2 linked regions of the Homo sapiens genome follow. The protein of the gene in region 2 purifies or fractionates together with the protein of the main gene of each other region. This does not show direct contact. Each region holds a gene or a part of one and is shown on either strand. Other genes may lie near its edges.

Region 1 (3,653 bases), on a different chromosome or scaffold from region 2:
ACAATAAATCTTCTTAAATATTTATTGGCTTAGAGCCACCATGTAATCGAGAGAAAATTCAGAAGCTAACAAAAGGTGCCGTTTCCCTGAGCAGCATTTCAGTGAAGGTTGGCTCAGTCACAAAAAATAGTTTCAATTTTCAGCAGAAAACAAATTACCTTCAAGGTCTCTCGCTCTTTCTGAGTCTTTTGGTTATACCAAGGTTCATCATTGTATGGGGTACTTTGCCAAACATACTTTAGAGTAGTGCATACTGCAGCTTTGGTCAGTAAGATAAATAAATATACAATCAGGAAAGCATTAATAGATCTGAAAAATAAGATAGCATGGATTTTAAAACCAAAGACATCAGTCAGATATGAATTAAACTACTGAGTCATCTAAAGCTTTTTCTGTGTACGACGCGTAACTACAGCACAAGCCTTTGTGTATTAACCTCAGTTATCATAGCTGCAGCATTACTTTCAAGTGGCAAAATGGAAAAGCTGGCCATGAACTGTTTATTGACCACCAATGCTCCCCCAAGTGCAATGGCTGACTAGCTGAACACACCTTATTAAGGTTCCTGTAAAGTGACAGGAGAGGTACACACATGCACACATACACACACCATTACTTACTCAACCCTTATAGAAAGAGTATCTTGTCTCCATTTCCCTGAATCCTAAATGTTTGGGGTAGAGGGCACGGTAGCAATGTGAAATCCTCAAGCTCGGTGTAGGTTCTTTCAGTTTAAAAGTGGAGCTATGGAAAGGGTGCCAGTGATATACTGGTTATCCATGCCAAATACAGGGTGAGGTCTATAGCAGTGGCAACTGGCTTGAGGATCTACGAGGCACTGCTTCAATAGGTGCCAGGAGACTATTATCTATATTATAGAACCAACTTGCATATAGCAACTAAAGGACTCCAAACCATTAACTCCACTAGCAAAAAGGAATGAATTTACAGTTCAAGTAAACTCTGCCCTTTAATAGCTATGTGAGCTTAGGTAAGTCACATACCATCTCCAAGACCATTTCCTCATCTGTAAAGTGGAGAGGTTAACATGAATTACTTCACAGTGTTCTTCAGAGGACTAAACCAAATCAGACATACAAATCATTGAGCACAGTTTCTGGTACATAAACAAGTGCTTAAAATTGTAGTTGCTATTATAATTGATGTTGTTTTTTGTTATGCTTGTTACTTGGAATTACCAAGAAAGTAACTATTTTAATCAATAATGACTAAATAAATTGTGGCGCATACTAACTTTTCAACAGCAGAACGTTTCTGAGATTTCCCTTGGTAGTTCAAAGCCATTTTGGTTTCCATTCCAGTGTAAACAGCAACTCCTAAGAAATTACAGAATATAATAAAAACTAAGAACTTGTCAACCAACTCCTCACCCAGCTGGCTCTATGAATTTTTAAGTCTATAAAAGTGGGAAATCTAGGCCCTCTTCCACTCACCAGTTGTATATCATTTATAGGATAATTTTAATTATATATAGTATTTGTCATATTTCGTCTTAGTTTACCACGTTATAAATTCCCAACACCTAAATGTAGGTTTAAATTAAATGGCAAACCTGCCATGTTTACTTTTTAATATGCACTATTTATTCACAGCCTTTACAAAGCATATTTTTTGATAGGTGTATCTTAAAAATTGTTCACCATATATCTTCTCGGTATTTTTTAGCGTAGCTCCTTTCAGCAAGAGATTTTCAGGTCCCAAAGACCTAAATAAAAAATGAACACAGCTTATCCAAACAAGCCAATAGCATCAACAACTCTGGGGACAGATTTTGCCCTGACACACACCTATCTCCAAGGGGTTCAGAATGTTATCTGTCTACTTATACCATATGCTTACTCCCCAGGACAAGCTGAAAGGTCCTTCACTCTGAAGTTACTTGAGGGTACAGCACAGATGGAAGCACAGTACGGGAGTAGCCAGCAACACACATAGGCAAAAAAAATACATGGGGGGGGATAAAAGGATTATGAATCATGGATAGCAAGACGAGAACAGAACAGAGCAGCAGATCGCAAGACACAAAAGCAGACAGCCATCAATAAAAGACAGGGAATGCAAACGTCAAGGTGGGAAAAATATACTGACATATTTGGAGAGAATAAACCCTCCTTTTGGGGGATCACTGGGGACCCTGTATTTCTTTAACTTTTTGAGTGTGGCTGTAAAGGCCAAGTGGAAAAGTTGCGGTAATTAATATGATGATAGAAGAGGAAAGAAAGCATCCCTTTTTGTATGAACTGCTTGATAAATTGTATGAAGGCTGATACATACAATTCGTATACATAAAACAATTCGTTTTAATGAAGCCTTTCATTTTACGTAAGTCCAGGTAGTTCTTCCAGCATTTTACCCACTGCTTACTTTCTCAATTACTCTCCCACTGTTCTCCAGTTATAATTCCAATGTTGTCAGCCACTTCACAACCGAGGATAATAAATAACATGGCTAGAACAGGTTTGGGAATATAATCCAAAATGTCTGGAGCTCTGCTATTTTGGAAACCATAAGCATTACTTCTAACAGCCCCCTCCCCACAACACAGAGACCCTATCACCACAACTCTACCAATCACAAGGTTAGTTGCTTATTCACCTTTATATTCCTTTTTTTTTTTTTTTTTTTTTTTTTGAGATGGAGTCTTGCTCTTGTTGCCCAGGGTACAGTGCAATGGCTCAATCTTGGCTCACTGCGACCTTCGCCTCCCGGGTTCAAGAGATTCTCCTGCCTCAGCCTCCTGAGTAGTTGGGATTACAGATGTGTGCCACCACGCCCAGCTAAATTTGTATTTTTAATAGAGATTGGGTTTCACCCCGTTGGCCAGGCTGGCTTCAAACTCCTGACCTCAGGTGATCCACCCACCTCAGCCTCCCAAAGTGCTGGGATTACAGGCGTGAGCTACCGCACCCGGCCTATATTCCTTTCTATAATAGAAAGGTATTTGGCTATTTTAGTTGATTTAACAGAAAAATAGACCCCCCCCCCCAACCAAAGGACAAATTAAAGAAACAGCAAACTTACCTGGCAACAGCCTCAAGACTATTACTGTAGATATTGATTCGCCCAACAAATCTGTAAAAAGAACAAAATTGCAAATGTGTTTTCTACATCCAGGTGAAATCCATGTACCAGAAATATGAGAATGAATGAAAATACAAATAATAAAACAGAGATAGATAAAACTGTGAATGAACTACAAAAGCCTATTATATTTCTGGGGGAAAAAAAGTTATGTTGAATTGATAAGGTGTATAACATTTTCATATAATTTTTAAATAACATGATGGGATTATAGGAGCAGAAACAAAGGTTCTCAATTGATTTTCAAGTTCTGTTTAACATCATGCATGCACACAACACCTCTCTCTTTTATAAGTTTATATAAATAACGTAACTTCTATCTTGGATCATGTGAAGAAAGGTTTCTGGTGCTAAAATACAATTTTCAAAACCGCTAGTTCAGTAGTTCTTACACTTGAGTGTGCATCAGAATCACTGGAGCGCTAATTAAACCACAGATTTCTAGGTCCCATCCCTGAGCTTCTGATTCAGGTTCCCCAGTAATGCTGCTGCTGCTGGTCCTGAAACCACTCTTTAAACCATAGTACTAGTCTTAGACAGTGAACACTTGA
Region 2 (3,075 bases):
AATGAGAAAGCTGAGGCTCAGAAAGGCCAAGTAACTTGCCCAAGTTCACATAGCCGGTAAATAATATGCCTGTCATTCTGACGTAAGACTTGCTTCTTAATACCTAAATGATGTTTGCTGAAATGAGGGGAATGGGGGTTCTGATTAGGGAAGGGGAGGGGCTATTTAATTTTGTAGGATGGCCCACACAACATGTGGTACTCTGGGGCCAGGTCAGTTCAGGGTAAAAGGAAGGCAAGGGGTGCTTTTTGGACATTGCTTTATTTTTGGACAGCCCTTTTTTTTTTGGACAGCCAAAGAGCAACAGGAGGCCCAGGGGGAGTGGAAGAGGAAGGCCTAGGAGTTCAGTGAGGGAAAGGGGTCATAAAAAAGGAAGAGAGTGGCCTACTTCTGTTATTTATGATTCATCTCCTGCCATTCCTAGGTTACCATTGTTAGGGGAAAGATGTAGAAGTCACCATTTACTATAGCACACAGTGCCACTGTTGGAAGAATTCCAGAAGAAGCTTCTCTCTGGTATTAGCACCAGGAGAAGCTGTGCTGCTCCTGATCAACCAGCTTACTTTCATTTAATGGACGCCAGGAGTCTTGTATCTGGTTGTGTTTCCTTCATTGCTTTGGCTGCTAGGAAACCCAGAGGCAACTTTGTAGCTCGGTTCTCATAACTACAAGGGATCTTATGGTCTGCAGATTACATGTTTGTACCTCACTTTTTTTTAAACTTTTTTTTTTAAGAAGTGGGATCTCACTATGTTGTCCAGGCTAGTCTCAAACTCCTAGGCTCAAGCGATTCTCTTGTCTTGGCTATACCTCACTTCTGACTTCATTCTGTCTTTTTTTCCTCTTTTTCATTTACTCCTTTTCCTCTCATCATATATATATATATATGCATTACATGTCTATGTAATTTGATTGAATGTTTGAATGTATGGGAATGTTGAGTAAATGTCCGTGTGTGTGCACAGGCAGATCATTTTTAAAAATGTGACATATTTGGGAGATGGCTTGAGGGTACCTTCTGCAAGCTGGTACCAAACTGTTGCTCATAATTAAGTTTTACTTTTCTAAGCATTCCTGGAAATTATTTGGTTAAATTAATTAAGTGAATGCCTAAGAGTGGTGAGTTCTCATCTCTCTCTTGCCTTACATCTTGTGCCATCTCAGCGAGTAGTTTTGCTCCATAAAGGGTGGTAGTTAAGAAGCCCTGCGTAGTTCATACCTATCCCCACTCCCTCAACCTCTCATCCCTCAATCAGATGATGGATTTTGTCACAGCTGTAGCCAAATACACACCCGATGCTATTGAAGGAACATGCTTATTTTTTAGCCCTAAATACATCCCTGGTTCCACCTGAAAGGCTCTGACCGGGGCCTTGTGCATGGGACAGAATGTCCCACTCTATTTTGAAGCTTTCTAAAATCTTTAAGGAAAATTCAAATCATACTCAGTTCAGTACTCGGTCAAGATTTAGAGAGCTTAAGTTCTAACAGATAAAAAAGTAACTCTAAATTATTATTTCAAGATGCCTAGTTAAAATAAACATATAAATTAATTTAGTGAAAAAGCAGGCCAGTGCTAAGTCTATGAAATAATCTTATTTTCCGCTTTTGTATTTTCACTTGCCCAGTATTTTTTCTTTGGCCATATCTAGTGATTTTTATACCCCAGACCTTGAGGCCATGTTAAACTGCACAGTGTGTCTCAAGTTTGTTATATTAATAAGGGAAAATGATTATTTTGGTCAAAGAGATTAGTGAGAGTGCATTATGAACCTAGCTAAATATTGCTTTTCGAACATTCTTACTTTTTTTTTTTTGGGACAGAGTCGGCCTCTGTTGCCCTGGCTGGAGTGCAGTGGCACAATCTTGGCTCACTGCAACTTCTGCCTCCCGGGTTTAAGCAATTCTCCTGCCTCAGCCTCCTATATAGCTGGGATTACAGGTGCCGGCCACCATGCCCAGCTAATTTTTGTATTTTCAGTGAAGACGTGGTTTCGCCATGTTGGCCAGGCTGGTCTCAAACTCCTGGCCTCAAGTGATCTGCCCGCCTCGGCCTCCCAAAGTGCTGGGATTATAGGCATGAGCCACTGCGCCTGGCCCTGCTTTTCAAACATTCTGACTTTAGAGCTTGCTAATCTAACTTATTATGTTTAAGGAACCGGTAAGTAAACACAGGAGTCCACCTATATGTGAGTGTGAGGGTATATGAAGAGCTGGTCTCATATATTCAATCAAAGCGTTTCCTCTTCCCCTCGTTTACTTTGTCTTGGACTTGTTTTCAAATTATTTCATACATATACACATGTCCTTTCTCTTCAACATCACCACAAGGTCTTCATGGCAGGAATTTTGTCTGTCCCTTCTGGGATGTTTTGCATATGTATTACATGTGAAAATTCTCAAGAAATTTTCCAAGTAAAATTTAATTCAGACCAGGAGCCGTGGCTCACGCCTGTAATCCCAGCACTTTGGGAGGCCAAGGTGGGAGGATGACGAGGTCAGGAGTTCAAGGCCAGCCAGGCCAATGCGGTGAAACCCCATCTCTACTAAAAATACAAAAAATTAGCTGGGCGTGATGGTGCGCACCTGTAATCCCAGCTACTCAGGAGGCTGAGGCAGGCGAATCGCTTGAAACCAGAAGGCGGAGGTTGCAGTGAGCCGAGATTGCACCACTCCAGCCTGGGCAACAAGAGCGAAACTCCATCCCCCCCCCCAAAAAAATTAATTCAGTACAGCACTTATTAAACATCTACTCAGTGAGAAGCATTCTGTTTCATGCTTTGAGGAACATACGGATGAATTGGATATAGCTCTTGACCTCTAGGAACTTAATTGATAGCAAAAATATGGTAAGTATTCTACTGAGAGATTCCATGTATGATTTGCACTTGCCTCTTTGGAAGTAGTGGGTATGTGGAATTGTACCTTGTTGCCAGAAATTGTGTAGGCTATGTTGACCAACGGCCCTGTAGTTAGACTCCTTCCAAAGGCACATTTTCATCAGGACAAGCCAGTGCATCTTGAGATGATGAGCATGAGAGGTGATGAGATTCCTGAGTGAGGGTGAATCTTGGT

Evidence for each region. Proteins that work in one complex are often made in the same cells at the same time.
Region 1: the proteins of KCNMB3 (region 2) and ATP11C purify together in Homo sapiens (affinity purification with mass spectrometry; one large-scale study listed by BioGRID and IntAct). This does not show direct contact.

What each region holds. Positions count from the first base shown.
Region 1 is NC_000023.11:139,797,018-139,800,670, forward strand, and holds part of ATP11C (phospholipid-transporting ATPase IG), read right to left. Parts: intron 3,094-3,653; coding exon 3,043-3,093; intron 1,727-3,042; coding exon 1,662-1,726; intron 1,338-1,661; coding exon 1,256-1,337; intron 310-1,255; coding exon 159-309; intron 1-158. UniProt on the Homo sapiens protein: Catalytic component of a P4-ATPase flippase complex which catalyzes the hydrolysis of ATP coupled to the transport of aminophospholipids, phosphatidylserines (PS) and phosphatidylethanolamines (PE), from the outer to the inner leaflet of the plasma membrane.
Region 2 is NC_000003.12:179,245,154-179,248,228, reverse strand, and holds part of KCNMB3 (calcium-activated potassium channel subunit beta-3), read left to right. Parts: intron 1-3,075. UniProt on the Homo sapiens protein: Regulatory subunit of the calcium activated potassium KCNMA1 (maxiK) channel. Modulates the calcium sensitivity and gating kinetics of KCNMA1, thereby contributing to KCNMA1 channel diversity.